Regions from separate parts of the Homo sapiens genome. Here region 1 is linked to region 2. The links come from fine-mapping of genetic effects on gene expression. A gene starts in region 2. The other region holds a variant in brackets. All regions are shown on one strand. Distances are from middle to middle.

Region 1 (12,020 bases), 26 kb after region 2:
TAGTGATTACCCTTGGGAGGAAAAAGAAAATAGTGCCCTAGTTATCTACTGGTAAGTAAAAAACCACTCTGAACTTAGCAACTTCGAACAACCACCACAATGTGCTTTGCCAACAAGTCTGCAATTTCGGCAGGGCTTGGAGGGGACAGCTCATCTCTGCCTCAACAGCATAAGCTTGGACAGTTCAAAGGCTGGGGGCAGTGAGGGCGGGTGTTGTTGGGGACTTGAGACTTGGAGGTGAAATCACTGGGAGTCTTACCCACTTACATGTCTGGCAGTTAATGCCGACTGTTTGCTGGGACCTCAGGGACTGTTGGCCAGAATACCTACACTTGTCCTCTCATGTAGCTGCATGGTTTTTCTTTATCATGGTGGCTGGATTCCAAGAGCAAACATCCCAAGAAACAGGAAGAGAAAGCTGCCAGTTTCTTAAGGCCTGGCCTGAAAACTGGCACAGTATCACTTCTGCAGTACTCTATGGGTTAAGCTGTCAATCTTGATTCAAGGGCAGGAGATAGAGACATTATTTCTCGATGTGAGGAATGGTGTCAAAGTAGTATTTGGGGACTATATTTTATAATCGCTGTAAGCTTTAATTAGGAGCACATGAGAGGAGAGGGTGCTTCTGGGGTTCTGGTTTCTTGAGCTAGGTGGTGATTATACAGGTATCTTCACTCTCTAATGATTCCTTCATCTGTACATATGGTTTGTGCACCTTCCTGAGCATATGTTTCAACTCCAATAAAAGAAAAGCTTAAAAAGGATGCAAACATTCTTTATGTCCAGATATAGAACAATCCCTAAGACATAGTAACATGCTATCATGGTTAAGTACTGAGCTCTGAGGGCTTGCCTGCTGGGTTCAAATCTAGTTCTGCCAATCCTAGGCTTTGTGTCTCAGTTTTCTCATTTGTAAAATGGGGATTATAATAGCTCTTACTCCAGGAGGTTATCTCAAGGATTAAATGAGTTAAAACATGCAAAGCATTCAGAATACTAATAGAAAAATAGAAAGTGCTTGAGAACTGCTTGCTATTTTTGTTATATTAAATGAAAATTGCAATTTGTATAGGTAAAGCAGTGTCTACAGTATGATGCCTTATATGGTTTGGCTGTGTCCCCACCCAAATCTCATCTCAAATTGTAGCTCCCATAATCCCCTTGTGTCATGGGAGGGACCCGGTGGGCAGTAATTGAATCATGGGGGTGGGTTTTTTCCATGTTGTTCTCATGATAGTGAATAAATCTCACAAGATCTGATGGTTTTATAAAGGGCAGTTCCCCTGCATACCTGCCCTTGCCTGCCACCATTTAAGATGTACCTTTGCTCCTCCTTCACCTTCTGCCATGATTGTGAGGCCTCCCCAGCCATATGGAACTGTGTGTCCATTAAACCTCTTTTTCTTTATAAATTACCCAATTGTGAATATTTCATCATAACAGTATGAGAACAGGCTAATACACTGCCATTTGTGGGAAAATGAGTAGACGTACCCATGGGTACAAACTAGCTATAAGATCAGGATATACAATAAACTAATAACGTTGGTTGCCTGTGGGAGGGAGATTTTTCACAGTGTAGACTTTGGTACCTTTTGAATTTTCAACTATATGAAGGCTGCATCTGGGAAATGGGTCTGGGTAGGGAAGAGGACTGTTGCTTTTTTATTGAGTGAAAGTAGCCAGACACAAAAATTTAGTGTTATATTTTCTACAATGTACATGATAAACATACTAAAAGAAAAGACAAGATGGGTCAGATTACAGAGGGCCTTATAAAAGACCAGGCATGGAAATTTAGAGTTGATTAAGGCCTGAAAATGGCACTGGCAATGGTGATAAAAGGATGAATTTAAACACTTAATAGAAAAAATCTAGAAAGTAAAATATCTGGATAGAAAATGATAGAGGTAAGTGAAGAGGACACCCAAGTTTTGGTGCGAGTAACTGTTACGGACTGAATTGTGCCTCCCCAAAATTCATATATTGAAATCCTAATCCCTAGTATGCTTCAGAATGTGCCTGTATTTAGAGATAAGACCTTTAAAGAGATGATTAAGGTTAAAAAATTATTAGAGAGGTGAAAAAGTTATTAGAGTGGTCTCCAATCCAATATGATTAATGTCCTTATAAGAAAAGGGAGAGAAACCAGAAATACATGCACAAAAGAAAGGCCATTGCTGGGTACAGTGGTGCATGCCTGTAATCCCAACAACTTGAGAAGCTAAAGCAGGAGCATTGCTTGAGCTCGGGAGTCTGAGGCAGCAGAATGAGACCCTGCCTCTGGTGCAAAAAATAAAATAAAATAAAAGCCATGTGAGGACCCACCAAGAAGATGGCCATCTGCAAGCCAAGGAGAGAGAGTTCAGGAGAAACCAAACCTGCCAGAATCTTGATCTTGGACTTCTGACCCAGAGAACTGTGAGAAAATAAATTTCTGTTGTTTTAGCTATCCAGTCTGTGGTGTTTTGTTATGGCAGCCTGAGCAGACTAAGACAGTGACTAAGAAAGTGACCATGCCATGACCACAGGCAGGAAAGTGGGAAAGGGAGCTAGTTTGAGAAGGGAGGTGATTTTGAATTGCAGCACCAGCCAGGCATAGTGGTTCATGCCTATAACCCCAGCACTTTGGAAAGCCAAGCCTAGAGCCCAGCCATGGGAGGTTTGCCTGAACCCAGGAGTTCAAGACCAGCCTGGGCAATATAGTGAGATGCCATCTCTACAAAAAACTCATAAATTATCTGGGCATGGTGGCTTGCATCTGTAGTCCCAGCTACTTGGGAAGCTGAGGCAGAAGGATTGCTTGAGCCCAGGAGCTTCAGGCTACAGTTATCTATCACAGCAGCACTGCACTCCAGTCTGGGTGACAGACTGAGACCTCATCTCAAAAATAAATATGTAAATAAGGCCAGGCATGGTGGCTCATGGCTGTAATCCCAGCACTTTGGCAGGCCAAGGCAGGCAGATTACTTTAGGTCAGGAGTTCAAGACTAGCTTGGCCAACATGGCAAAACCCCATCTCTACTAAAAATACAAAAAAATTAGCTTGGTGTGGTGGTGCACGCCTGTAATCCCAGCTACTCAGGAGACTGAGGTGGGAGGATCATTTGAGCCTGGGAGGCAGAGGTTGCAGTGAGCTGATATCTGACCACTGCCCTCCAGCCTGGGCTACAGTGTGAGACTCTGTCTCAAAAAATAAAAAATTAAAATAAATAAATAAATACATATATACATAAAATAAAATTTAAAATTGCAGCCCCAGTGAAATATGGCGGCTCACGCCTGTAATCCCAGCACTTTGGAAGGCCAAGGAGGGCAGATTACCTGCAGTCAGGAGTTCGAGACCACCTGGCCAACATGGTAAAACCCCATCTCTACTAAAAATACAAAAATTAGCCAGGCATGGTGGCACATGCCTGTAATTCCAGCTACTCGGGAGGCTGAGGAAGGAGAATTGCTTGAACCTGGGAGGCAGAGGTTGCAGTGAGCTGAGACAGAGCCACTGCACTCCAGCCTGGGAAACAGAGCAAGACTCCATCTCAAAAAAAAAAAAAAAAAAGAAAAGAAAGAAAGAAAGAAAGAAAAGAAAAAGAAAACAGAACAGGCCTTTTTAACCGCAGAGGTAATGGCTACAGGGAAGATAATGTGACTTTGGAGTGAAAGGATAGAGAGAATAGGGAGCAAGGGAATACGTAGCAAAGGAATGGCAAGAGAAATAAAAGGCAATAAAAAGGGAAGGAACTGCTAGCAAATAGGACAGAAGCCAAGGAAGCCGAACATTTGAGGTATGAGAAATCTTTTTTTTTTCTTTTTAATGCTGTAGAGAGAAACAGAGAAAGAAAAACCAGAAAAGAATAATGGATTTAACTAAAAAGAGGTCTTTGTTGACCTTTTAGAAAACAGTTTCAGTGTTGCTGGGAGGATGGAAACCGCATTGCCAAGTATGCAGTAGATGAGATTGTGGATAGAGAACAAATGCAACCCCAAGGCATTTACCATCCATTTAAGAGCTTAGGTAGCCCACAGAAAGTGTGCTGGGGGCTGGGCATGACTATCCACGGAGACCTGTTGTAGCGTTGAAGGTAAATGGGGAAGGAACCAATGAAGTGGGAGAATAAAGGAAGACCAAGTAGAAGTGAAGTCCTCTGAAGGTTTGCCTAGGATGGTTGGGAACACCTTAGATGAATTTATTTTAGAAAGGAGGGGGATAAGACTCCCAGAGAGGGAGGAGGCAAGGTGGAGAGATGGCGTACCAATACACAGAAGTAGAAATTAGAATAATTGTAGGAGCTTGAGACTTGGTAGTGGCATACACAAGAAATTCATTGAATGTGAAGTAAGGGAATGGAAGGAAAGCTTGAGGAGAGAAAGAAAACCCATTGGTAAGATTATGAATTTCATACAGGCAAAAATTCATAAGAATTTCATACGAATTCGGTAAAAGATACCAAGCAATAGTAATACTTATTCACTAACAAAAGCTCAAGCATCTGTAAAACAAAAGAAATAACAAAGAACTAAAGACAATCTGGGCCGTTTACGAAATCCATGTGTGTGACCTTAAAGAAGCTCTTTCCCGAATCATTTTCTGTTGTTGCATTGCTGTTTCCAGAGTTCTGGAATTCTATGCCACAAGCTGAACATTAAGGTCATTGATATCATCTGAAGCCAGGAAGAGTCTCTGCTAGGAAGACTTTTAGCACAAAATCAACTATTCTCTGCTCCAAGTAAAATGTCTAAACTGTCTGCAAAGGCAAATGGCTAAAAGCTTTGACAGGAATACTTCGTTAAGTGAGATTAGTCATGACCTCTTAGTAATATAAGCCTGAAGAAAGAAATGAAAGTTGGAAGTAAAGATATGAGTCATGCTGCAACTTGGTAGCTGGCATTCATTCAGGAGCTCAACAATGTCAGCAGATCTTAGGCTCCTTCCTTCTGCTCTGCCAGTCCTTATTCTTGTTAACTCATAAATTCAAAATGGCTGCCACAGCTCCCAACATCACAGTTCAAAGGCAGAAAACAGGGTAGTCAGGGTAAAAGTCTTTATCCTTCTGGGGCTACTCTTATCAGGCGAAAGATTACCTTTCCCAGTAGCCCTGTAGTAGACTTCCCCTCAAATCTCTTTGCCATATAACTGACTACTCTTAGATGTAAGGAAGGCTGACAGAAGGACACAGAATGGCTATGACTGGCTTAGCTAATAATGACTCATCTGCTAGGGCTGGGTACATTCCCCAGACAAAATAAGGCAGTGGGGCAGGAGCAGGGAAATGGCTGTTGAGTAAGCAACAGTGTCTGTCACAGTGAATTTAGCCCATATACATATAAGTTTGG[T/C]CTTAATTCTGTATCAAATTTTGTATGATATTTTCTGGGTTTTTGTTGTTGTTGTTACTTTTTGAACACTTCTCTACTGGACTGTATTTTCTTTGTGTTTGCATGTGTGTGTTTCCTAATAGTTTATAGGGAAATAAATTTTTGTTCTAGTGGTTACCTTATAACTACAAGTTTATATAATAAACCTAATCCTCTTTCTTCAAGCAAAACCAGTTGACTCCATACTATGAACACTGACAAAATTAGCACACTATCACTTCCCTTTTTCTGCTGTTCTTAGTATTTATCTTCGCTTTTTTTTTTTTTTTTTTTTTTGTAGAGACATGGTTTCACCATGTTGGCCAGGCTGGTCTTGAACTCCTGGCCTCAAGTGATCCACCCACTTAGGCCTCCCAAAGTGCTAGGATTATAGGCGTGAACCACCACGCCTGGCCTTTATCTTTGCGTTTCTAAATATACTTATTCTATTAGGTTGGTGCAAAAGTAATTGCGGTTTTTGCCACGTACTTGATTTATCATCTTTAGATGATTTATTTCCATCCCTGGCTATTAAAATAATGAAATCAGCACAACTTAAACTACCTCCCTCTCTTCGTCACCTTTTCTCTCCCCACTATTGTTCGTTTTATACTTTCTTGATAGCAGGCGAGAATTAGAAAGAATGTAGGTGCTTGGTACTTTTACTGACATATAAGGGAGATTTTCTTGCTTAGGAGGATGGAAAGGAGATGGCTTTCACTTTGATAATGGAACCAAACGTATGGCCTGGTCATGAAGGAAGGACAAGCTTCTAACCCAAGGTTATTTTCATGAGATATGAAAGGAAAAATATCAGCTCCAGGTGTGCTGGCACAGAGTCCCAGCTACTCAGGAGGCTGGGGCAAGAGGATCATTTGAGCCCAGGAGTTTGAGTCCAGCTTGGGCAACATAGCAAGACCTATCTCTAAATAAATCAATAAATAAAGTATTCAGTACTATGTGGAACTGAATTTTGAGGAAAGTCTAGTAGGGGAGAGATATGTAGCTTTTCTTCAGCATCCAACACAGGATTTAAATCTGTGGAGAAGGTGGAGTTACCTCAGGTTTTTTATTTCCTTCTGAATGTCATAAGTAGATTTGGACCTAAGGCTGTCCAATTCCAGAGAGCAGTATAAAATGGGGAAATCACTTTTGCCCTAAGATTAGACTGCAGCTTTGGTTTCACCCTGCTTGTTCATGCAGTTCCTGCAGACGTTGACCTTCTAGACTGTCTGCCTAGACCACACAGGCCTCGTGTCTCCTATTCCTCAGCTCACTTCTTAAAATGGAACTTCCCTTCTCCCACATCTTATAGGACCTGCGTCACCTCTTTAATTGTATATTAATGAGCTCTTCTGGTACTCGACGTCTTACCTTTCTATTAGTGTCCACCAGCCTCCTGATTAGCCACACTCCTAGTCTAGTCCTCACCAGACCACCCCGTCATATCACCGCTTAAATCCCAGAGTGCCAGTTGAGAAAGTAGAAAGCCAGATGAGAATGTTGCTCTGAAAACCAAGAGGGAGATCTGTGTGTGTGTAGGAAGTTGTCCCTTATAGGATTGGCCAACTTTTTTGGTAAAGGGTCAGATAGTAATTACATTAGACTTTGCAGGCCCTCTAGTCTCTGTCACTACTACTCAGTTCTGCCATTGTGTCAGGAAAGCAGTCATAGACAATGCGTGAGCAAGTGAGCTTGGTTGTGTCTTGCTCTGTCGCCCAGGCTGGAGTGCAGTGGCTCTATCTTGGCTCACTGCAACCTCTGCCTCTCAGGTTCAAACAATTCTCCTGCCTCAGCCTCCAAAGTAGCTGGGACTACAGGCATTCACAGCCACGCCCAGCTAATTTTTGTATTTTTAGTAGTAGAGATGGGGTTTCACCATGTTGGCCAGGCTGGTCTTGAACTCCTGACCTCAAGTGATCCGCCTGCCTCAGCCTCCTAAAGTGCTGGGACTACAGGCATGAGCCACAGCGCCCGGCCCAAAAACCATTCTTAACTCCCAGGCTGTAATGAAAAAGAAGATGAGGCAGATTTGGCCTGTGGGTCATTGTTTGCCAATGACTGGTCTATAAAACTAAATGTTAAAAGCTGAGGTAAGATCAATGAGAATCATAATGGACAGAGATTCTTTAGTTTGTTTGTTTGTTTGTTTACAGAGAAGATATAAGATCCTTAATGAGCTCTACAAAAATATTTTGGTGTTTTTTGTTTGTTTGTTTGTTTGTTTTTTTGACACAAGGCTCGTTCTGTTGCCCAGGCTGAAGTGTAGTAGCATGATCCAAGCTCACTGCAGCCTCGAACTCCTGGGCTCAGGCAATCCTCTTGCAAGTCCTAGCTACTCGGGGATTGCTCAAGTCCTGAGTAGCTAGGACTATAGGCATGGCATGCACCACTATGCCTGGCTAATTTTTTTCTTTTGTAGAGATGGGGGTCTCGCTATATTGACCAGACTGGTTTCAAACTCATTCCTGGCCTCAAGTGATCCACCTGCCTCAGCCTCCCAAAGTGTTGGGATTACAGGCATGAACCACCAAGCCTGACCCCAAATTATTTGTTAAATGAGCCCTGTCTCATGGATTTGGGGATCTTACCATTTACCCCAACTCAGGCATATCCAGGTACCAGAATGAAAAAGAAGGAACACCTGAGCATCTGATCCACTCAGCTTCTTTGTCTTTCTTTCCGAATAAGCCAGAAATGCAAAAGAAACTGGCAGAAGATTGTTTTCTCTTAGTCTGGTCTCATCCGATTTATTTTAGCCTCAAGGAAGACAGGACTTCCACATAGTCTACAAAATATTAGAGAACTGTTCTTGGTCTGATTGTGCTTTATCAGTTGTTTGTTAGTTTAAACGGATAACCTGAGCTGATTTTTAAAACACCGATTTTACTTGGAATGTGCCAAAACTGTCATTATGCTTTTTATTATGTATAACTTTAATGACTATAGTAACTATCTGGAGAACACTGAGCAGGTCGTTATCCAGACATCCATTGTTATAATCATTGCCACATGCTAGACTTGTTTTTTTAAAATAACCTTTTTATTTTAGAACAATTTTACATTTACAGAAAAGTTGCAAAAATATTATAGAGTTTCCATATAACCCTCGCTCACTTTCCCCCAATGTTAACATTTTTACATTCTATGGTACAGCTGCCAAAATAGGAAACCAACATCGACACGATACTATTAACTAAACTCTAGTCTTCATTTGTATTTCACCTGTACTAGACTTTTGATAATAAAATCAGTGTTAAGTTGTTACAACTGGGCTGCCATTTTATAATAAAGCAGGCATAAAAGATCAGTAATTAGTTTAGTCTCTAAACTAAATTAGATTAAGAGTAGGTTATGTGACCAGGGGCAGTGGCTCACATCTGTAATACTAGCACTTTGGGAGGCTGAGGCGTGAGGATCACCTGAGGCCAGAAGTTCAAAAGCAGCCTGGGCAACATAGCAAGACCCCCATCTCTACAATAAAAATTTTAAAAAATTAGCCATGTATGGAAGCACACATCTGTAGTCCCAGCTACTCCAGAGGCTAAGGTGGGAGGATTGCTTGAGCCTGGAAGTTCAAGGCTGCAGTTAAAGGTTGGGAGTTCAAGACTCCTTGACTGTGTCACTACAACACTCCAGCCTGGGTGACAGAGTGAGATCCTGTCTCAAAAAAAGAAAGAAAGAAAAGAAAAGACAAAGAAAGAAGGGAGGGAGGGAGGGAGGAAGGAAGGAAGGAAGGAAAGAAAGAAAAGAAAGAAAAAGCTTATGAATGCTCATCTGACAAGCTAATTAATTTTCTGCATTTTACTGATTTAAGTATCCACTTTCTTACTCCATGTAGAGACAACAACAATAGGCCAGGTGCAGTGGCTCACGCCTGTAATCCCAGTTCTTTGGGAGGCCAAGGCAAGTGAATCACCTGAGGTCAGGAGTTCGAGACCAGCCTGAACAACATAGTGAAACCCCGTCTCTACTAAAAATACAAAATTAGCTGAGCATGGTGGTGTGTGCCTGTAATCCCAGCTACTCGGGAGGCTGAGGTAGGAGAATCACTTGAACCATGGAGGCAGAGGTTGCAGTGAGCCAAGATCGTACCACTGCACTCAAGCCTGGGCAACAGAGCAAGACTCTGTCTAAAAAAAAAAAAAAGGAGCAACAACAAAAGCCATTGCCTACTGATTCTTCTTCTCTCTTAGTCTCAAAGTCCGCTACTCCTCATCCTAGGCTTAATTCTTAACGCAGATGTTGTTTTCTCAATAGCGACATGTTCCCTGAAGGGAACGTTCACCTGCCATTTGGGTATTACAAGGAGTTGAATATGCTTTTCTCTTTTGATGCTTAAAAAATTAGATACAGATCTTTCAAGCAAGCAAAACAGACTAATTAGCTCTGTGAAGCATTATGGCTAGAAATCAATGTGTGTTGTCTGTATTTGACCTGTGAATAGGGTTTCTAATAGTCAACTTTAAATTAGCTGTAGAAATGGGGGAGATAGGACTTTATCATGGATAAATAACATCCTACAACTTCATAATAAAGAAAGACAACAGGCTGGGTGTAGTGGCTCATGCCTGTAATCTCAGCACTTTGGGAGGCCGAGGTGGGCGAATCACGAGGTCAAGAGATGGAGACCACCCTGGCCAACATGGTGAAACCCCGTCTCTACTAAAAATACAAAACTTAGCCGGGCATGGTGGCACGTGCCTGTAATCCCAGCTACTCAGGAGGCTGAGGCAGAAGAATTGCTTGAAGCCGGGAGTTGGAGGTTGCAGTGAGCCAAGATCGCACCACTGCACTCCAGCCTGGCGACAGAACGAGACTCCGTCTCAAAAAAAAAAAAAAAAAAAAAAAAGACAATATTCTGCTTCTTTCTCCATCAAATCTTGTCTCTAGGTCACTAACAAGCAAGATCATTTTTGCCTTTTACCTGCATTCCTTCTTCTGAATAGCCTCTGGGTGTGGTTTTATTAAAACTGCAAAAGCCGGAAGAACTATAACTGGAGGATCAAAATGAAGCAGTTCATGAAGCAGACATCCTCATGGGTTCTCTCACATAAAGAGTTTCTCTCCATCTTCTTACAGATACGTGAAATTCCGGTAATAAGGGACAAAATGGTTAAGCTCTTGATTTGAGACTAAGGATGGAGATGGGGCCATTTAGAATGCCCAGATTCAAGAGGCAAGTAGAAAGGAGAGTTGACGAAGGGTCCCGAGCAGGGACAGCTGGAAAAGCAGGTGAGTCAGAAGTGAACGATGCCCTGGCAGGAGGAACGGATTTCAAGATGGAGCTCAACAGTATGAAATATGCCAAAGAGAGGAGCCTGGCCTCTGTTGAGTTTCCCAGTCGTGAGGCTCCAGATGGTGCCAAGGTGAAGTTGTGTGGATGGCACACCACAGTCCAGTGAGGCCCACTGAGAGGGAGGAAGTAGAAACAGCAGTGTGGACTCTGCTTTGAGAAAGTGGGCTGTGAGAAAGAAAGAGACAGATGGTGGTAGCTGGAGATGAACATAAAGTTAAGAGAACTTCTCTCCTTTTTAAGAAGGCTATGTAAGGTTGCTAGAAAAAGGAACCCATGTATAGGAAGTCGGAAAACAAAACTAAAAACTCAGGAAGAGGGAGAGGAACTAGAAGAAGCAAGTGTCATAATGACTTTCAAATGGTTCAGTTTTTAAAAAACGATATACAGAGCGTTAAATAAATTTGTCAAGATGATGACAGTTGTTGAATCTAGGCAGAGAGTATACAGGCTTTCATAATAATATTCTTTCCATTTTCATATACATTTGAAAATTTTCAAAACAAAGGGGATGTGACAAATCTGTGGACCAGCCATATATGGTTGAAAATTTTCTTTTAAAAATATTGAGAGGTATCCAAATATAATGTGAACATAAAATTGCAACTGAAAAGTTATGATTAAATGTTCACAGCCATACCTAATCTAATGGACTGCAGATAATATTGTGTTATAGACCTATAAAAATTGTTTCACTTGAATTTTTGTATTGCAGTTTATTTAAACTAAGAAAAAAGGTCATGGCCAGGTGTGGTGGCTCATGCCTGTAATCCTAGCAATTTAGGAGGTCCAGGTAGGCAGATCACTTGAGGTCAGGAGTTCGAGACCAGCCTGGCCAACCCTGTCTCTACTAAAAATACAAAAATTAGCTGGACGTGATGATGCATGCCTGTAATCCCAGCTATTTGGGAGGCTGAGGCATGAGACTCTCTTGAACCCAGGAGGTGGTGGTTGCAGTGAGCTGAGATCGCGCCATGGCACTCCAGCCTGGGTGACAGAGTGAGACTCTGTCTCAAATAAATAAATAAATAAGTCATAATATTTTCACACAATATACACTTAGTTCTTTAAGTGACAATTGTCACAGATAGCAGAAAGACTTAAGGAATGCTGCACTTGTAATCCATACAAAATACCAATGTTTTGGGTGATACATAACGAAATATCACAAACACTTTTCAAAATATCATAGTAGCCAATATATAGGGAATGACTTTGGTGAGCATAGAAGTTTAGAAAAGAAAACAAATCACACTGGAACTATCTGATTTCTTTAAAAATCACTGAACAAGAAAAGGTACATTGAACTTCACATACCGATTTTATATAACTTCTGTACAGTACCTTGACTTAAATCCAAGAGCAAAAGTTA
Region 2 (12,020 bases):
TTAAACATGCCTTTTCTATTCCTGTTTTCATGCCTTTTATATTCATTTTCTCCCTTCAGTCAGATATCATCCATTAAATGACCGAAATACAGATGCTCCACGACTTGTGATGTTACATCCTGATAAACCCAGTGTAAGTTACACGTATTTTAAATCAAAAAGTGACTTTTGAACTTACAACAATTCCAATTTACAATGACTTCACCTGGATGTAGTCCCATCATAAATCGAGGAGCACAATGAATTCATATGGCTTTCACATCATGGTAAAGTTGAAAAAATCTTAAGTCGAACCATTATAAGTCAGGGGAATCTGTATACAGTACTTTCTTATGTATGTAACCAATGGATTATTTTTAAAACTTAGTTGAATTAATCTTAAAACATTAAAAATGATAATTATTAGAGCTTATGTGTAGCAACATTACCATGGGGCGGGAGAGTATATCAATTTATACAGTCTGTGAAAAACATAAGCACCACAAAGATACTTCAGGGTAATAAGTAGAAGCAAAAGTTTTAAATGACAAATAATCCTCACAATTAGCTTAAAATAAAGAAGCCTTCTAATATTTGATTTAGTGTACTTAAAATGAGTCCTTAATATCATTTTTCTGATTATAAAAGTATACTTAAGAAAATCGTGGCAATCTATGCCATAAATTATAAAGGAAACACAAATGTAAATATATATATTAAAAAAGGAAAGTTAGCTATACCTGACCTACAACTAAGCATAATTAACACTTTGGTGGACCTCCATCTTCTATGCATACAAATATACTGTAAATAAAACTAGGTTCAACATGAGTAAATGCCCTTAACACTAGAGGGGGGATTCACTTGAGCAATGTCTAGTATACCATGACAAACAGTCAAAAGTCAGCAAGATTTTAAGGTTAAGAATGACTACTAAATTTACTTCTTTCTTCTATAATTTTATATACAGATCAACTTCTACAAAATGATTTCTTCACCCATTTCAGATCACATTCCTTTGGGAAGCAGCAGTTAAATATACGGTTTTAGAAGGATGTGTGGTGAAGGCTTCAAGAGTTACAGATCTCAGAAGCTCATCTGTGGGCCCCTCTATAAATCAGTAAATGTCCACTTTAAAAGATTTTCTCTAGTCATAATTTCAAAGCCACACTGGGCAGGTGGAACCACCACACTGTCAAGAGATTCTATAATCCAAACGCTTTCTTCTCTTGCATCACAATATTCTAAATAGGGGAGACTCGTGAAATAAAACTATCAGAAACCATTTTCCCAAAGAATTTCTCAAGTTAGACCCTATTATATTCTAGTAGTTTTCACATATTGAAATACTCATCACACTTTAGACCAAAATACCTGAACAGGCCTAAAAGGCTCATCAGATTCTTTCCACCTAGAAAACAGGAGACAGACGATTTTTTCAATATCATTCCGAGGCCAAAGAATGAAATCCATCTCCTGAGTACAGCCAATTACATCCTATAAAATGATTAAAAAAAAAAAAGTTTACTTTTAAAGAAACAGCTACATCAAGCCATGTCACAAATTATAGGGTTCCCCTATAAAAACATTTTATAAGTACAAAAGATCTACCATATATCATTTTATATCTTAGGAAGTAAACATAATAGTTTATAATCTGAATAGCTCATGATGTAATTTTTTATTTTTGGAGACAGAGTCCCTCTCTGTGGCCCACACTGGAGTGCAATGGTGCAATCTCCGCTTACTGCAAATTCCGCCTACCAGGTTCAAGCGATTCTCGTGACTTAGCCTCCCGAATGGCTGGGATTACAAGTGTGTGCCACCATGCCCCGCTAATATTTTTTGTATTTTTAATAGAGACGGGGTTTCACCACGTCAGCCAGGCTGGTCTCGAACTCCTGACCTCAGGTGATCCACCCACCTCAGCCTCCCGAAGTGCTGGGATTACAGGCTAAGTCACTGTGCCTGGCTCTAATTTTAATTTTTATCTTACAGAGAGTCACATACACTCAGTCCAATGCTCCTAACACCAAGACCTAGACTTATCAGTGCATGGTGAAAACTCCAACAAAATCTCTGATATCTGTTGTATTGTCAGACCCTGAACCTTTATTTCCACCTTTAAAAATCAATCTATTTAAAAAGATGTCTTAGAACTCCTAATATGAATCACTATCCTATTATAGCTGAAATGCTATTTTTATTTTGATAGAAAACTACTTTTCTCCATTCCTGACTTCTGCTTCATTATTGTAGCCAGCATATTAATTTTTGAAGGTCCATAATTTCTTCCAGACCAGTATCTGGTTATCTCCAGCATTCTCCCCAAGTAACTGTGGGGATCTCTTGGTTCAGGTATGCCCAGATTAACTTTTAACATGTTGCAGAAGTTTACAAAGCTGGAAGCACTTCCTTATATTCATATTCCCCCCAAAAAAGGAAATACAATAAACGGAGACATAAGACATTTATCCACAATAATAATACACAATATTATGAGCCTAATACAACAAAGTTGTCCATGTTTTACTCAAGGTCAAGTTTTCAAAAACAAACCTACTTCAAAAATTTTTAAACTTTCTGCATAACACTTAAATTATTAAAAACAGTTGGCTACTGGCAGGGTGCAGTGGCTCACACCTGTAATCTCAGCACTTTGGGAGGCCAAGGCAGGAGGATCACTTGAGGTCAGGAGTTCCAGACCAGCCTAGCCAACATGGCAAAACCCCATCTCTACTAAAAACACAAAAAATTAGCCAGGCATGGTGGCGCACAACTGTAGTCCCAGCTACTCGGGAGGCTAAGGCAGGAGAATCATTTGAATGCGCGAGGGCAGAGGTTGCAGTGAGCCAAGATCATGCCACTGCACTCTAGCCTCAGCGAAAGAGCAAGACTTTGTCTCAAAAAAAAAAAAAAAAAAAAAAGTCCGAGATCATCAACACCTAACACAGATTAAAGAAATCCCTTTATATACTTCATCCACATAAGAATGGTCTGGCGTAAAAAAACGTGTTTTTCTAATCCTATAAACACAATGCTTTAAAGTCATGATCCCAGTTATCAACATGGCACAAAGACAAATTTACCTGAAGAGACTGGTCACTATCATAACTATCCACTTTAAGGGGGGTTCGGGGGGCGGGGAAATGCAAGGTTAATCCACAGAAACTTTATCAAGTCAAGACTTAAGGCAGAACTTACCCTTCTCATAGACTGATATCGAGGAGCATGGAGCTGTACCACATCCTTCTGTAAAAGCTCTAGGGAACTTTCCAAGGAATAGCTGGAATCTCGCACACCTTTCAGGATATTTTCTTCATAATTATTTGTCATGACTGGTATAACCTCAGACACTTCAAAAAGTGCTGACTTTTTCTTCTAGAAGAAAAGAAAATGGTGTATTAACCCACAGGGAGCACAGCCTTTTAACACTCAGTTCATATTACAATGTCATGTAACATTAACTCCACAAAATTCTTAACTGTCTGCAGTAACTTATACACTGAAAACACATTTTCAGATAGGTAATTCCTTCTGTTCTTCCCCTACCTCCCCCTCCAACCATACATGTACAAACTGTCATTAGAATGTTTAATGCTTGAGTTTTATAGCATAATGGTATCCATAGCACTATTTTGGACAATACTTCTTAAAATTAAAAATCTCACCAGTTTTAAAACAACGCTATTCAGACAAATGAATAGTTTTATTCCTTATATGGGCCAATTTCCATTACTTTCTCAATATTACATTATCAAAACCATCAATATTTCTGGTTTTTCTTTTTTTTTTTTGAGATGGAGTCTCACTGTGTTGCCCAGGCTAGAGGGCAGTGGCACCATCTTGGCTCACTTGCAACCTCTGCCTCCTGGGTTCGAGGGGATCTCCTGCCTCAGCCTCTCGAGTAGCTGGGATTACAGGCCTGCGCCACCACACCTGGCTAATTTTTGTATTTTCAGTAGAGACAGGGTTTCACCATTTGGCCAGGCTGGCCTTGAACTCCTGACCTCAAGTGATCCGCCTGCCTCAGCCTCCCAAAGTGCTGGGATTACAGCCGTGAGCCACTGCACCCAGCCAAAACCATCAATATTTGAAAGACTAAAAAGAAGCACACCAAGTTCTCTTTTAATACTACTCAAGACCAAGTACGCATCACTAAACTACTTTTTAAAATTCTGTACTATTAAGTATATATCATGAATTATTCAGGGCAACTGCATGGACACTGTCCATTCACAGAATAAAACCAGATTATCGTTGGTGTTAAAGAATTAAGATGGTGCAATTTGGGGCAATATATAGATTAAATACAAAGATATGGTCTCACTACTTATTATCTTGGATTTATTTAAAGAGCATACACTGTATCATCTTCAACTAAAATCCAATCTCATCAATTTTGAGTCAGCTTGTCAACAAAACAAAAGTGGAGATGTAAGTCCTTGATACCACCCAATCTTGGGACAGTCACTTCAAAAATTACTTAAAAATCACTTCACAATGCTATACTTCAGCAGCTAAGAATGTTCTTAAATACAAATAACCTTTTAGGAGTTAAGAGTTGGGGCTGTGCGTGGCAGCTCCTGCCTGTAATCCCAGCACTTTAAAATGCCATGACAGGAGGATCACTTTAGCCCAGGAGTTCAAGACTAGCCTGGGCAATACAGTGAGGCCTGTCTCAGCAACAAAAATAATAAGAGTTAAACAGTAGGGGGAAACCTGGAAAACTTCCAGATACTTAATAGATACCACACTAAGATTGTATTTCTGATCTGAAATTAGCTAACAATTTAAGCACCAAAATCCAAGTAGCACTTCCTTACATTCATAACCTCATCTTTGGTCAAATAAGCCTTGCTGATAATTTAAGAAAATGTTCATTTTAAGTTGCAAAAAATACTGCTCTTATCATCCCATCCTTGACTACTCACAACTTACTGTTTGCTATTTAACTGCGGAACTAATTCTGATTAAGACCTCCACCGCCCCTAAAAATGAAACTTCCTCTAGGTCATTTTGAGTTTTTAAAAACTGTACTTCTATACAAGGCAAAATGAACTCTAAGTAAAAAAGAAAATCACACTTCTAAACACAAATTAACCATTTCAGTATTTAATTGCTCCTAAAAGGTGTATTCTACTTCATTAAATGTAAGAGAAAAGGTTACCTACATTACGCAGTTTAAGAAACAGGATAAACTTTAGCATATAAACAGTCTGATTACAATTTCACACTTTCAACCATCTTATTTATACTCTACATTAGATAATCTTTAAATTCCATCATAAGGTTTCCCATGTTAACTCCATATAAAATTTTGTAATCTTGCCCACCCCATGTCAACTCAGTGTATACTACTACTAAGCTTCAGACTCAAATTTATTTCCAAACCAAAGAACGCTCAAGGGTCTTTTCGCATGCTGCAACTGCTCAATTCACAGAATCACCCCTAAGGGTGAAAAAACAGAGCATACAAAGCAGACTTTTTTTCAACCACTCTTTAACCTAATATTCATAATAATTTAAGAGTAACAAATAATATACACTTACAAAAATTACTTGTGCTAATTCACCATTAAGAACTTTAAATTACCTTCTCCTTGAATACAAAGGCAATATACATCTTGAAGTCAAACTGGTCAGCTAGAGATTCTTTTTTCTTTCTAAGCTGAGCACGTAGTCTGTTCAGAGCTTGTTTCTTCCGGGAGTTTGGGTCCCCCATTTTGAAATACAGGTGGTACTAAAGCCTTTGGAAATTGTCACTAAACTATGGGCACTTTTTCTTAAGACTCAAGTACAACAGAAACAAGTCATTTTTTTTCCTGCTAATATGATTGATTAGCGAAAATCACGACTATAACCCAAAAACTGCACCTTCTGTCAATATTAGCAGACTGTCATATTACAGGGTCAAGAAACAAAAGCTGCTGTCCAGTCATGTTTGGACAATAACGTTTGGGGTCAGACGGGAAAAAGGGAGGAAAGAAAGGAAAGAAAGAGGAGAAAATAACTAACTTTCTGGAAAACACATTTGGCTTAACTGCCAAAATAAAGGCTTTGCGGAGAAATGAAAAGCCTATAATCAGGATTTAGGTGTGCAATAAAACACAGCTGACACCAGACCAATCCCTAAAATCCATCCGGATTTTCCCCCCTTTTTAGAAAAGGGATTAAGGAACAGGGAGGGGGAAGTGTGATCCTTGCTTTCCAAAAAAAAAAAAAAAAAAAACTCACCAAAACCAAAACCAAAACCAAACACCAAAACAGGGTAGGTGAATGAAACTGAAATATCCAATTAGATTTTACCCAGCCAGCTCCATGGCTGTAGTACCTAATTCTTAGTTATTTCAGATTTCACTATTGCTATGTATTGTCAGTGCTTGTTATTGATTACACTTGGTGGTGAGCATAGAGAAAAGTGCAAAATCGGTAGAGAAGGAAAGGGAGAGGTACAGGGTTTCCCTGCAATCAACTACAGTGTATACCGGGGGCGGGCAGCTGTGGCCCAAAGGAGCCATGAGAAAAAACAGCGGAGTCATTACCAACTTCCCCATCACCCACATTTTCACCCTCAGGCGGCTGCTAACGCTGCTGCCAAGGAGAATCATGACGGCAGAAGGAAAAGGGGTATATAATACGGTATTAATTATTCCGGCTCTGTGGTTAGACCTGATTAATGCCCGGGTTCCCAACACCCCCAGCCTGCAACTAGTCCTACATTCCCCAAGGGAGACTTCCCTGTGGATCTGCCCCCGTTCAAAATGGTGGGGAGTGCGATTTATCTTCTTGTGAGCATTGCCGAGGCAAAGGTGGCGGGTTCTTCTCCCAAATCCCAGGCGGTGCCCGGAGACCACCTGCCTTCCACCCCCGCAGGTCCCACCCCCACCCCTTGCCTTCAGCGGCAGCGACTCACTCGCACCACGGGAGACACAGGATCACTCAGGTTTTCACTCATTTCATCGTGGAAACAATTCCCGCCCGGGTGGAGTGGGCGGGAGAGGGTAAATGGGAAGGTTCAGTGGGGGAAAAAAAGAAAATAATTGTGTTAATATTACTTCTAAAGTAAGCCCACCCACCCTCCCCCCAAAAAATTAAGTTCCCGGATTAGCTCTCTCTCACGTTGAACAGACCATGTTTCCAGAGTTTGGATTGTTTAGGGTGGGGTCGTTAGTTGTTTCCCGAGGGGCAGGGGGTGGAATTGAGGCAGCTAGGGCGGGGTGGGTGACGGGGAAATCCCCTCCCTGTCCCCGCGGAGCCCGGGACTCACGGACCGACTCTAGGGCGGGGTTTGGGCCCTCTAGCCGCAGCCTGCGGGCGGAGCGGTGGCGGCGGCGGAAGAGGCGGCGGCGGCGGGGGCGCTGCTGGTAGCACGGGCAGGAGCCATGTCAAGAGAAAACCACCAGCCAACTGAGCCCCTCCATCCCCGCTGCAGTGCGCACCGTGACTGGACCGCCCGCGCTGCTGCCGCCGCTCAGCCCCCACCTGGGACCCATAGTCTGGCTCGGCGCCCTGGGCGGCAACGGAGGGGAAGGACGCGGAGACAGCGGCAACAGGGAGAGAAAAAGAAAAAGAGGAAAAACAAAGAGAAAGATGGGGAGTTGGATTGGTACTGGCGGCGGAGGGGGAAGGGAAAGGAAGCCCTGCGCTAAGGGTCAGCAAAGTAACCCCCCAAAATAAAGTTATTTCAGTTCAAGCATCTGCTCTTGAGTCTTTCTTCCCCCTACAGTCGGATTCCGGCTCTCAGGAAAGGTCGAGGAGACCCGGAGGGGGGAAAAGCCGAAGCGGTTGGTGAGCGTCCGCGGCAGTACTGCCTCGTTCCCCCCCCCGCCGGTGGCTGCAGAAGCGGCGAAGGCCTCGGGCGCCTCGCGGGTCCGGGGCAGAGTCGCGTTTGAGAAAAGAAGCGAGAACAAACAACTTAAAATGGCAGCGACGGCCGCTGCGTCACCCGCCTCTCACCGGCACCGCCCCGGTGTGACTGCGACTGCGCGCCCTGCGGGACCCCACCATTTGCGCAGAATCAAAGGGGGAGAAAGGATTGGAGGTGGGAAAGTTTTCAAGGTTACCGAAAAAGAGGAAAACAGATCAAGAGTACGGAATAGGGACAGGTCTTTTAAAAGTGGAGCCTTTGAATTTAACCTCTCCATTTCAGTAATCGCCCCTCAAAAGGGGAGTTTGAGAGTTGAGACTCCTCTCTCCTCCAGTATGGAGTATCCAAGGGGCGTGGAAAGGGGGGGGCTCCCCGCCACTCCTTCCGCCCCCCTTCTTCAGGAAGTCCCAGTCTCCTGAGTTGGCTCTTCGCCCCGCCCCGATGTCGTCATAAAAGCACGCCCTCAACCATCCTCAACAAAACACCCGGATGGAGTCGCACTTCCCGAGTCTCGTCAGCCTCTCAGAGTCAGGCTGGGCGCGTGACAGAGCCGAACTAGCGACCTGGGCGGGCCAAAACTGCGGAAGTCGGCGGAGAGTGGGCGAGGGTAGGGGCGGAGCAAAGAAGGAAAAGGAAAGTGTGTGTTGGAGATTGGAAGATTCTTATTTCGATTCTTATAATTAGTTAGTCCTGGGGGTCGGCCCCGCGGTATCCTGCGGCAACAAACCTAGAACTCAATTCGACACCTGGAATTTAAACGGCGTGCGGGAGCAGATGTCTCATGTTAGTGCTACTTGCCTCTGTCCCCACCCCGCCACGTGCGCAGGCAGGGAGGGCGGTCCTCAAGCTTCGAACAAGGTCAAAGACGTTGTTCAGACGTTGCTGCTGTGGCTTAGGAGAGGAGCAGCCCAGTCTGACTCGTGGATTTTTACCCACTGCTGTCAGAACACACTTTCTGTTAGAATCCCCCAAGACCTCAGACCTACAGCCTGCCCCTTAGGTGGTTCACTGTCTTCATCGAAACGTTTGCCGCCGAGTCGCACGTCCTTGGCACCAAAAAGCGTTGAGTCCATTTTTCAAAGCTCTAATGTGCTCTTTAAAACACAGTTATGTAAGTACTTAGCAAAGGTCAATACTCCACATAAGCAATGCTTATATACTCATTGGCTACTCTGAGATTTTAGAAGTCCATTGGGACCCCAATTACTACTTTTCACTTCGTGAAGTCAAAACAGATCAGCTGTAATAACATTATTTCAGCCATGAGCCAAAAGAATAACTGGTACCCACCCTTCAATATAAATTGTCCAGAACCAAAGGATGAGTCCTGAGATTTCCAAATAACTTCTAATCTCGGAAGATACAGCTTGCATTTTGCTAGTGCTTTGCTGATTTGTTTTCAAAATCATGTAACTATGGAAAGCTCACAGAGATAAAACAGAAAATGTCACGTAGTTTAGAGCATTGGTTTAAAAAAGAAAGATTTTTAAAAGTAAGCCGAGCATGGTGGCTCACGCCTGTAATGCCAGCACTTTGGGAGACCGAGGCAGGCGGATCACCTAAGGTCAGGAGTTCGAGACCAGCCTGGCCAACATGGTGAAACCTCGTCTCTACTGAAAATACTAAAATCAGCCTGGCTTGGTGGCAGGCGCCTGCAGTCCCAGCTACTCGAGAGGCTGAGGCAGGAGAATCGCTTGAACCCGGGAGGCGGAGATTGCAGTGAGCCGAGATCGCACCATTGCACTCCAGCCTGGGCAACAGAGTGAGACTCCGTCGGAAAAAAAAAAAAAAACAAACAAACATATGAGACATACAAGCCAGTATGATCTTCAGGTGATCCGCCTGCCTCAACCTCCCAAAGTGTTGGGATTACAGGCATGAGCCACCATTCCCAGCCGGCTTATATGTTCTTGACCTGGCCTTGACTTGTATCCATGATCAACTTCATGGAAGAATTTTTAAAATAACAGCTTTATTGAAATATAATTCACATACCGTATTTATCTACTTGAAGTGTACAATCCAATGGTTTTTAATATATTCAGTGTTGTGCAGCCATTACATTACCCCAAAAAGAAACCCTGTACCTATTAGCAGTCACTTCTCTTCTTTCTAGTTTATGTTCTGTCTATAGATTTGCCGTTTCTGAAATTTCATATAAATGAAATCATTTAATATGTGGTCTTTTGTGACTGGCTTCTTCACTTAGCATAATGTTTTCAAGGTTCATCCATGTTGTAGCATGTATCAGTACTTAATTCCTTTTTATTGTGGAATAATATGTATTGTATGAAATTCTATATTCATTCATCAGTTGATGGACATTTGAGTTGTCTCTGCCTTTTGGCTGTTATAAATAATGCTGCTATGAACATTTACTTAAAAGCTTTTGTATAGACGTATGTTTTTAATTCTCTTGGGCATATACTTAAGAGTGGAATTACTGGGATATATGTTAACTCTATCTTTAACCATGTGAGAAACTGCCAGATGTTTTCCAAGTCTGTTGCATCATTTTACATTTCCTCCAGCAGTGTATTCCAATTTCTCCACATTCTTGTTATTATGTCTTTTTTAGTATAACCATCCTAGTGGGTATGATGTATGTCATGGTGGTTTTGATTTTCCTTTCCCCAACGATTAATGATGTTGAGCATCTTTTCATGTGCTTATTGGCTGTTCTAATATCTTCTTTGGAGAAATGTCTATTCAGAACTTTTGCCCATTTTTATTTATCTACTTGTTTATTTATTTATTTTTTGAGACAGAGTCTCGCTATGTTGCCCAGGCTGAAGTGCAGTGGCATTATCTCAGCTCACTGCAACCTCCGCTTCCTGGGTTCAAGCAGTTCTTCTGCCTCAGCCCCGAGTAGCTGGGCCCACAGGCCCCCACCACCATGCCCGGATGATTTTTGTATTTTTAGTAGAGACGGAGTTTCACCATGTTGGCCAGGCTCGTCTCAGACTCCTGACCTCAAGTGATCCACCCACCTCGGCCTCCCAAAGTGTTGGGATTACAGGTGTGAGCCACCAAGCTCGGCCTTTTACCCATTTTTAATTTAAAAAATTGTTTTTTTAATTATTAAGGTGTAGAAGTTTTTTATTCTAGATACAAGTTCCCTGTCAAATATATACTTTACAAATACGCTCCCCTATTCTGTGGGCTGTCCTTTCACTTTCTTGGTGATATCCTTCGCAGCACGGAAGTCTTTAATTTTAATAAAGTCCAACTTATCTATGTTTTTCATTTGTCCCTTGTGCTTTTGTTGTTTTATCTAATACACCATTGAAGAATTTTTTCACTACTATAATAATCCTGAAAAAAACAGTATGGAGCAGATGTTGAGGAAAAAATGAAGTTTTTAGTTTCAGCTACTGTGAAACAGAATTGGAGACACCTGGTCACAGCTGAGCACATCCTATGAAACTGTGTTATGGGACTGTGCTAGGTCTTAATGAGATGAGCCAAGAAATAGCAGCAATGTCCCCTGGAGGACGAAAACACTGCTAGCTCAATTTTCTCTGTAACTTGAAAGGGCTATAAAATAAGAAGGTAGTCGAAGGAATTAAAATTTTTAAAAGCCGTGACCAAACGTTTCTCAATGAAATTCAGATAAAAGTCAGAGAGCATTCACTTAAGATTTAGCTTCTTTAACTGTGGAGAAATGCATTTCATTGTGTTAGAAATGGCTTACTTAGGGTTAGGCTGCTTCAAACACAATAGGATTTGTGGAGTGATGATTTGATGGTGGCACCTTGGCTAAAAATATCTGCTTAACTTCCCTTTTGGAGTTTTAAATTATACCACTAGATACATTGAAATTTCCCTGGTTGAAATGCAGATATCACTGCAAAGGTTACATTTTAATGAAATAACACCTTATAGAGATTCTGTGCGAGCCTCCTTTCTGAAGAAACACAATGCAGGCCAGCTTGGGCGGGCTCCTGTGTTAACTTCCAATCTTTAAAGAAGGACAACCTCGGATAATCCCAGTCTCTGACATTTATAGCAAGTTAGGAAATGATTTCTCAAACCTGTGCTTGTGTAGCCTAAATAAATGACAATAAGATAAACAATAAAGTATTTAACAATTGGCCTTCACTTTTCTAAAAAGAGCCAGCCTTTTCTTTTACCTTTAAAACATACATTGTCTGTACACACATGCTCTTCT

The links. PIP is the estimated chance that this variant, and not a neighbour inherited with it, causes the effect.
Region 1: its variant is fine-mapped to the expression of C6orf62 in whole blood (TOPMed, PIP above 0.99).

The regions. Positions count from the first base shown.
Region 1 is chr6:24,738,562-24,750,581 of GRCh38, forward strand. It overlaps LINC02828 (long intergenic non-protein coding RNA 2828), which reads left to right and starts at 3,744. Exons shown (of 3, transcript NR_183315.1): 1 at 3,744-3,785; 2 at 10,435-10,587. It also overlaps the pseudogene AP3S1P1. RefSeq lists an enhancer at 4,964-5,053. The variant T/C (reference allele first, on the strand shown) is at 5,335.
Region 2 is chr6:24,712,965-24,724,984 of GRCh38, forward strand. C6orf62 (chromosome 6 open reading frame 62) reads right to left here and starts at 6,190. Exons shown (of 5, transcript NM_030939.5): 1 at 5,576-6,190; 2 at 3,184-3,360; 3 at 1,354-1,476. The coding sequence starts at 5,704. RefSeq lists enhancers at 6,871-7,664, 7,964-8,713, 8,459-9,252, 8,844-8,893, 8,944-9,033 and a silencer at 7,234-7,403.